2 linked regions of the Homo sapiens genome follow. The protein of the gene in region 1 purifies or fractionates together with the protein of each later gene. This does not show direct contact. Each region holds a gene or a part of one and is shown on either strand. Other genes may lie near its edges. The genes, in order: FAM13A and PPP2R3B.

Region 1 (4,547 bases):
GGATTAAAGACTTAAATGTAAAACCCAAAACTATAAAAACCCTAGAAGAAAACCTAGGCAATACCATTCAGGGCATAGGCATGGGCAGAGACAAAAATGCCAAAAGCAATGGCAACAGAAGCCAAAATTGACAAATGGGATCTAATTAAACTAAAGAGCTTTTGCACAGCAAAAGAAACTATCATCAGAGTGAACAAGCAGCCTACAGAATGGGAGAAAATATTTGCAAACTATGCATCTGACAAAGGTCTCATATCCAGAATCCATAAGGAACTTAAACAAATTTACAGGAAAAAGACAAACTACCCCATCAAAAAGTGGGCAAAGGATATGAACAGACACTTCTCAAAAGAAGACATTTATGTAGCCAACAAACCTATGAAGAAAAGCTCACCATCACTGATCATCAGAGAAATGCAAATCAAAACCACAATGAGATACTATCTCGAGCCAGTTAGAATGGCAATTATTGAGAAGTCAGGAAACAACAGATGCTAGAGAGGATGTGGAGAAATAGGAACGCTTTTACACTGTCCGTGGGAATGTAATTAGTTCAACCATTGTGGAAGACAGTATGGAGATTCCTCAAGGATCTAGAACCAGAAATACCATTTGACCCAGCAGTCCCATTACTGGGTATATACCCAAAGGAGTATAAATCATTCTGCTATAAAGACACATACACACATATGTTTATCGCAGCACTGTTTACAATAGCAAAGACATGGAACCCACTCAAATGCCCATCAATGATAGACTGGATAAAGAAAATGTGGTACATATACACCATGGAATACTATGCAGCCATAATAAGGAACAAGATCATGTCTTTTGCATGGACATGTATGAAGCTAGAAGCCGTCATCCTCAGCAAACTACCACAGGAACAGAAAACCAGACACCACATGTTCTCACTCATAAGTGGGAGTTGAACATTGAGAACACATGGACACAAAGGGGAAACAACACACATCAGGGCCTGTTGGGAGGTTGGGGGTGAGGGGAGAGAACTTAGAGGATGGGTCAATAGGTACAGCAAAAGAAAAAAGAAAAACAAATTGACAGAAAAAATGGTAACAAAAATAAAAATAGGATAGTTTCCTTTTGGCTTACCTGAAGTGGCTATTTTAGCTATTAGTTCAAATATTTGTAAATTTTAAAATCTATCAAATTTTCTAGTGACAGCATGTGGAAGAGAAAGTTATTGAAAAGTCAGTTAGCTAATTTTTCAGACTGCAAATCACATATGTAGAATTATGGTTGTCTAGAAGTATGTTGTTTATGTTTATCATCAGTATATTTTTATAAGACAACTCATACATAATTAGAAGTAGTAACGGCTACATAAAATAGAGCATTTTCATTTAAAACAATTCTGATGGGGTAGCATGGAAGGAAGAAAATTTTGGTAGAATTTAGCTGGTTTCTAAGGAAGAGTAGAAGAGAAAACTGCCTCAGAAAAAATGAATAATGTGCCTGCAGTTTTAAACCTGAGTCTGAATACGTACATTTTGCTTAGAGCTGTGTGGAATCTGGGAAGCAAGTCTGTGTTTTCACTTTATGCACTGTTGGTTCTATTAATGAAAGCCACCAGGTGACTGGCAGTTTTCGGAGTCAAAGAAGCCTGTGTGTAGGATCTAGGGAGTCAGGTTTGAAAAAAAGATGTCAGCGACTTAAGACCCGTGTCACGTGACTCCCTCTACTTGCCAGCACTGAGGCTGTGGATCAAATTTCAACTCCAGGCAGTCCTTCCAGCCATGTGGGTTCAGCGGAAAGAGAAGCAAAACCACTCTTCCTAAAATGTTAGAAGCTGCTCTTCGCTTACCTTGGGGCCTTTGCATTGGGAGCTGTTTTTCACATCAAAGAATATGTGCTGAATGGAATTTTAGTATTTTGCTGTCGTTTTAATATTTTCGTCTGGTCTTCCTCAGTTCTTCCAGACGCTTTCTGAGAGAATGGGGGCAGGAGCTCTAGCCATCTGTGTAAGTATAGGCCTTCTTCTGTCTTCTGTGTTTACTGCCAGTTTTTAGGAGAGGGCCTTGCCTTCCTTGTTTTGATGAGATGTTTGTGTAACTTATTTTTCCTTCCCAGGAGGTGGGGAAAGATTTGTTACTTAAATTCCTATCTACTTAAATGGGTATTAGGCAGGATTTGGGATGGCATTCAGCATATTTGTGCACTTTAGTTTCCAAAAAAGGTGAAAGATGCATGCTGATTTATTCCGTTAAGTCAACTTGATTTAAAGTAGAGCACTTTCAAGCATTTTAGACTTTCTTGTCCCTGAATAGTTAAACATGAATGCTTCATTATAGCTATTAGAGAAATCTTGTGGCTAGCTTGAGGAGGAATTGAAGTAACCATTAATTTATTACTTTTGAGTATGTGTGTGACATTTTTCTGTTTTATATTTCTATTTTCGTTTAGTAATTCTGGAGTTTCTGTTTCAGCATGATTGCTGAAAGTGATGGTGGAGAAGCTCAGTTGATAAATGTTTGTGTATCCTTAAACTGTAGAAATGAATGGTTGTTATAACACAGTAGCATTAATAAATAACACTGAAATAAAATCCTTGGGAAAATGTGCATATTTCTGGAGTTTTAGAATTTTTAGAATTTATGAATTTCTAAATTATTCTGCTGGTGCTTGTACAAAACCTTTTGTAATAATCAAAAATTGTCAATTATATAATTTGCAGAATGCTGTAATTTAAATTTTGATTGTACTATATAGAAAATGCATATATCTGTATGAGAATTACACATATTTATGTTTCAAGTTGCTATTGTATTCCATAGGGACATTTTATTTTCTAGAATGTATTAAATGAGAAATATCTTCTTCCTTATTATCACCTTAACTGCTCACTTAAAAAATCACACTCAGGCCAGATCCTCTTTTTTTGTGTGTGTTTCAGAAAGAGCTGCAATTTGCTGTAGCTTCTGATGGCATTCTGAAGTGTTTAGAAATATCTGAGCAATTTTTGACACACAGACACCAAATGGTCACCAAATGGTCACCAAATGGTAGACCAGCCCTATAGATTAAGTTTTCTTAGTGAAACTGCAGGATGACCTTGTTTCCAGGCTCAAAACTTTTCAGCACCATGTATGTCACTCTGTCTTCCTTTTAACTCTGAGGCTTAGTAGCATCCAGGTATCCATGTGGTTATTCTTTTTTTATCACCCCAAAGAGTTTCCTTCAAAATCTGATTTATCTATGTGTAAAATACTGACTTTTACTTTACTGCAGAGGTGGCCCTTCTATTTTTCTAGCTTTATAAAAGAAACAATACAGAACTGAAAATGTGTAGAATGAGGCAGCAGATAGGTCATGAAGATTGGTAGTCATCTCTGATTGTCTGATTAGATCTTTACTTCTTTCCCTTGACCTGCAATATATTGATCTCTACCTTGACTGGAATGCACACTGACTCATGTATAAAACTTTATATTTTCCCTTAATTTATATCCAAAGCATGTATAAAATTTCAGTTAAAGTTGACATAAAAATCACACAGTGTAAGAGATTATTCACTCTGGTAGATGAGTAATTCTCAATCATTTCTACCCTTCTCCTTAAGGTTGGCCTTTGATTGTGCTGTCTTGGTTTTACTGTAGGAGGAAATACATTTTCAACAGTTGTACCATAGCATATCTGGAAAAAGATAGCTTTTGGAGAACAACAAAAAAAATTTTAAACATCGTGACAAAAAAGGGAGAACTAAGTCACACATTAATACATTCAATGAGCTGATACACTACTTTTTACTTTGTGTAGGAGTGAAGAGAAAGCTTTTCCTCTGCCCTTTCTGCAATTTTATTGAAACAATTGGCAATAGATTAATAGGAGAAAAAGAGTTACAAATTTATTAATATGTATATGGATATGAGAGCCCCTCAAATATGAGATTCAAAGAAGGGCCAGGTGGTTGAAGCTTAAATGCCTTCTTTTTGGGGAAGAGAGAAGTAGGGAGCTGCAGGTAATTTTAGAGAGGTAGTAAATAATTTTTAAAGTGAATGAATGGGTTCAAAGAGCATGGCCTGGGACAGCGTTTCCCTGAGCTATGGTGAGGTGGTGGAAAGGTGAGGGGTGGAATGAAGGTTGTGTTTTTATGCAGATAAAGTCTCCCAGCCAATCTCTTGGAGCTGTCCTCAGAAGAATAGATGAAAAGTCAGTGTGGATATGGTGACAGCTTTTAGTCTCTTTTCTGATGGTTAATTTTTCATGGTTATTTGATGAGATTCTCAGGAAGTAGATCTTAAGACAATTGCATTTCTTTTGGAAAGAAGCTTCCTTAATCAGATAAGGAAATTCCAGAGAGAGTCACTCTCAGTGCTTTAGGAAAGAAAAAGAGAGACTGAGGGAGGGCAGGAGAGTGGAAAGGCAGAGAGAGACCTTGGTTCTGAGGCTTATTTCTGAGACATTTTAATTAAAAATACCCAGCATGCCAAAGCACCATATTTTGGGGTATAGCTTTTTGAACCCCAACATTTAGGACTTACATACTTATACATATATGTAGCAACTACTGAAATATCCTGCTGCTG
Region 2 (3,811 bases), on another chromosome or scaffold:
AGGCTGGAAGGCCGAAGCGGAGGCTGGAATGGCCACGGGCCCTGCAGCCTGCCCAGCAGGTGCCAGCCGTGGGATAAGGACAGACGTCGTTGGCGAAACACGACTCGGCCTCCCCGTGCTGGGCCTGATGTGCGAAGCCTCGCGCCCAGGATCACAGAACCCCACGCGGGGAATGACGGGCAGACTGCACCGAGGCCCGGCCCTGTCATCGGCTGTCCTTACCTCACCGGCCCCGTGTCAGGTCTCACCCCGCCCCTCTGTGTCCGCGCACCCCACCTGACTGACCCCGCATCCCCCGGCTGCACACACACCCGTCCTCCCACTCACCCGTCCTCCCCACTCACCCGTCCTCCCACTGACCCGTCCCCCCACTCACCCGTCCTCCCCACTCACCCGTCCTCCCAGGGCTCTCCCGCAGTCTCCTCGGCCACCAGGATGTCGTACTCCTCGGCCGCGTACTTCTCCCAGTCCGAGAGCTCGGGGCCGCCGCTGTCACCGTCCTGGAGGAAGCACACGGGTTACGTACACGGCGTGGCGCGGCCCGGCCCGCGTGCCCGCCGCACTCACCCTGAGCAGGGAGATCTGCTCTTTCTGCTCGTGGTCGAGGTACTTCTCGATGTTGAAGAAGGTGTCGAAGAAGACGTTAGCCAGCTTGCAGCGCTTCAGGTCCTGCAGCGTGATCTTCCCTGCGGGGAGGGGAGTGCGTCCAAGGCGCGTGAGCCCGGTCTCACCTTCGGGGCCTGGGTGTGGGGTGCGCGCGTCCTGTCACACGTGCTTAAGGACGCGGCACGAAGCTCCGGGCTCTCACGCCACGTGTTTGACGTGAAAGGCGGACACGCGAGTGTCCTGGTTCTGGGTGGGGACTGAGGCGTGGGAGGCCGTGATGCGGAGGCGACTAGGGGCCACCGGTGCCCCAAGGATGCGTGGACTGGGACTAGCGCAGGGAGGCGCGGCCAGCAGGGGCGCTGCTGGATCTGAAATTACAGAGAACGGAGCTCCCCGTGCAGGCAGAGGCCAGAGGGTGTCCCGGGGACACTGAGCAGCAGGAGGCGCCCCATGGCCGGGGGGGGCAGGGCTGCAGGGCGGTGCCCGGGCCTCAGAGCCATTTCCAAAGTGAAAGTCCCAGAGCTGGATTCTGAGATGCAGAAGGAAGCCAGGCGGCGTGGACGGTGGGGCTCCCCTTTGCCTTAGAGGGCACGGGGGTGGGTGGGAGGAGCTGGGGAGATGGTGTGGGGGGAACAGGGGTGAGGGGAGGAGCCGGGGGGGGGTGAGAGGGGAGGAGCCGGGGGGGTGAGAGGGGAGGAGCCGGGGGGGGTGAGAGGGGAGGAGCCGGGGGGGGGTGAGAGGGGAGGAGCCGGGGGGGGTGAGAGGGGAGGAGCCGGGGGGGGATGAGAGGGGAGGAGCCGGGGGGGTGAGAGGGGAGGAGCCGGGGGGGTGAGAGGGGAGGAGCCGGGGGGGGGTGAGAGGGGAGGAGCCGGGGGGGGGTGAGAGGGGAGGAGCCGGGGGGGGGGTGAGAGGGGAGGAGCCGGGGGGGGTGAGAGGGGAGGAGCCGGGGGGGGTGAGAGGGGAGGAGCCGGGGGGGGTGAGAAGGGAGGAGCCGGAGGGGGTGAGAGGGGAGGAGCCGGGGGGGGGTGAGAGGGGAGGAGCCGGGGGGGGGTGAGAGGGGAGGAGCCGGGGGGGGGTGAGAGGGGAGGAGCTGGGGGGGGTGAGAGGGGAGGAGCCGGGGGGGTGAGAGGGGAGGAGCCGGGGGGGTGAGAGGGGAGGAGCCGGGGGGGTGAGAGGGGAGGAGATGGGGGGGGTGAGAGGGGAGGAGATGGGGGGGGTGAGAGGGGAGGAGATGGGGGGGGTGAGAGGGGAGGAGATGGGGGGGTGAGAGGGGAGGAGATGGGGGGGGTGAGAGGGGAGGAGATGGGGGGGGCGAGAGGGGGGGAGGAGCCGGGGGGGGTGAGAAGGGAGGAGACGGGGGGGGCGGGGTGAGAGGGGAGGAGACGGGGGGGGGGGGGGTGAGGGGAGGACCGCCTTGTGCGGCATCAGCACGAACGTGGCAACTGCTCCCTCAGCCCAGTGCCAACGTCCCCGGTGAGCTCCGGCCCTAGGTTCTCTAGGTCACCCCTCGGGGGGTGTCGACGCCCCGAATAGGAGGTTCTTGCACTGTGAGACTAGGCACCTGTGGTGCTGGCCCTCCTCACAAACTCAGTAGGACAGCGCCTCACAGGGACGTCCCCTCACCCTGGTCCGTCCCCCCTCCCGTCTGTCCCCTCACCCTGGGCCGTCCCCCCTCCCGTCCGTCCCCTCACCCTGGGCCGTCCCCCCTCCCGTCCGTCCCCTCACCCTGGGCCGTCCCCCCTCCCGTCCGTCCCCTCACCCTGGGCCGTCCTCCCTCCCGTCCGTCCCCTCTCCCTGGGCCGTCCTCCCTCCCGTCCGTCCCCTCTCCCTGGGCTGTCATCCGTCCCCTCTCCCTGGGCCGTCCTCTCGCCCGTCCGTCCCCTCACCCTGGGCCGTCCTCTCGCCCGTCCGTCCCCTCACCCTGGGCCATGCCCTCACGGGGCATCACCTTCAGTCCTCGGCTTGACCAGGTCCAGCATCTGGCAGAGGCAGTCCTGGAAGGGCAGGGCCTCGATGGCCATGCTGTCCAGCCTTCGGCACTGCTCCTCGTAGAAGTACTCGAGCTCGAACATGGACAGGGCGCCGTCCCCGTCCAGGTCCATGCAGCGGAACCAGTACTCGATGCTGCGGCACGGCGAGCTCTGTCAGCCCCTGCCCTGGGCCCTCCCAGCCCGTGACCTGCAGCCCCTGAGGCAGCCCCCACCGGGGGTGCACGCGTCCCCGCTGTGCCTTGCAGCCCCCACCGGGCGTGCAGGCATCCCCTGCCCCCTGCCGCCCCCACCGGGCGCGCACGCGTCCCCCTGTGCCGTGCAGCCCCCACCAGGCGTGCACATGTCCCCCTGTGCCGTGCAGCCCCCACCGGGCGTGCACATGTCCCCCTGTGCCGTGCAGCCCCCACCAGGCGTGCAGGCATCCGCCTGGGGACACATGTCACATGGGCGGCTCCCGGCCCCTCCACTGGGACAAACGCATGCCGCAGCAGGAACCCACCTGGTCGGTGTTTTTTTGTCTTCCTCAGAGATCAAAAACCAGACAAAGTCGGCATAGCTGATCTTCCCTTCCTTCTGCACTTTTCTGCCTCTAGATCGAAAGCCAGGATGGAGAGACGAAGATGCATGTCAGGGAGAGCTTCACAGGAACGGAGCCCCTGTCCACGCGCCTCGGTGAGGGGAGCCCCCCGGGCCCGGCCCTCCTCCTGCCCCCCTCCTGCCCCTCCTCCTGCCTCTCCGGGGAGGAGGTGGAGGCCCCGTGGCCAGAGGGTTTTCCCCAGATCCAGGCAGGGTCAGGAGTGCACCTTCGTTACTGCTCACTCAGGCCCAGCGCCCGACAAGAACCCCCGACCTGGGGCCTGGGCCACCCCCTTCCTCAGACTTCGCGTGACAGTCTTGTGCCACCCCCCCCCACTAGGGATTCACGTGACAGAGACACGTGCCCCCCTCGCCAGGGCCTGGGGTGACAACCACTCGCTGTCGGGGCACAAAAAGCTCACGTCAGGCAACGATGAGGAGAGGGACCGGGGTCCTCGCAGGGGCAATGGCTGCCGTCAGGCGCCTGAGCCGTACGTACCGTGTGACTGCTCCTGAGAAGATCCTGTCTATCATCTTGGTAGAAAGGGCTGGAAAGGAATGCGGTTGATGGGCAGCCCGCACCGTGCCTCGGCCCCGACGTCACCACCCCCCGGAGCCGAGACTGGATGCGGTGGGGA

What was found.
Region 2: the proteins of FAM13A (region 1) and PPP2R3B purify together in Homo sapiens (affinity purification with mass spectrometry; one large-scale study listed by BioGRID and IntAct). This does not show direct contact.

Annotation. Positions count from the first base shown.
Region 1 is NC_000004.12:89,054,373-89,058,919, reverse strand, and holds the start of FAM13A (protein FAM13A), read left to right. Parts: upstream 1-1,734; 5' UTR 1,735-1,955; coding exon 1,956-1,982; intron 1,983-4,547.
Region 2 is NC_000023.11:338,211-342,021, forward strand, and holds part of PPP2R3B (serine/threonine-protein phosphatase 2A regulatory subunit B'' subunit beta), read right to left. Parts: intron 3,722-3,811; coding exon 3,673-3,721; intron 3,187-3,672; coding exon 3,097-3,186; intron 2,731-3,096; coding exon 2,555-2,730; intron 687-2,554; coding exon 568-686; intron 501-567; coding exon 394-500; intron 1-393. UniProt on the Homo sapiens protein: The B regulatory subunit might modulate substrate selectivity and catalytic activity, and might also direct the localization of the catalytic enzyme to a particular subcellular compartment.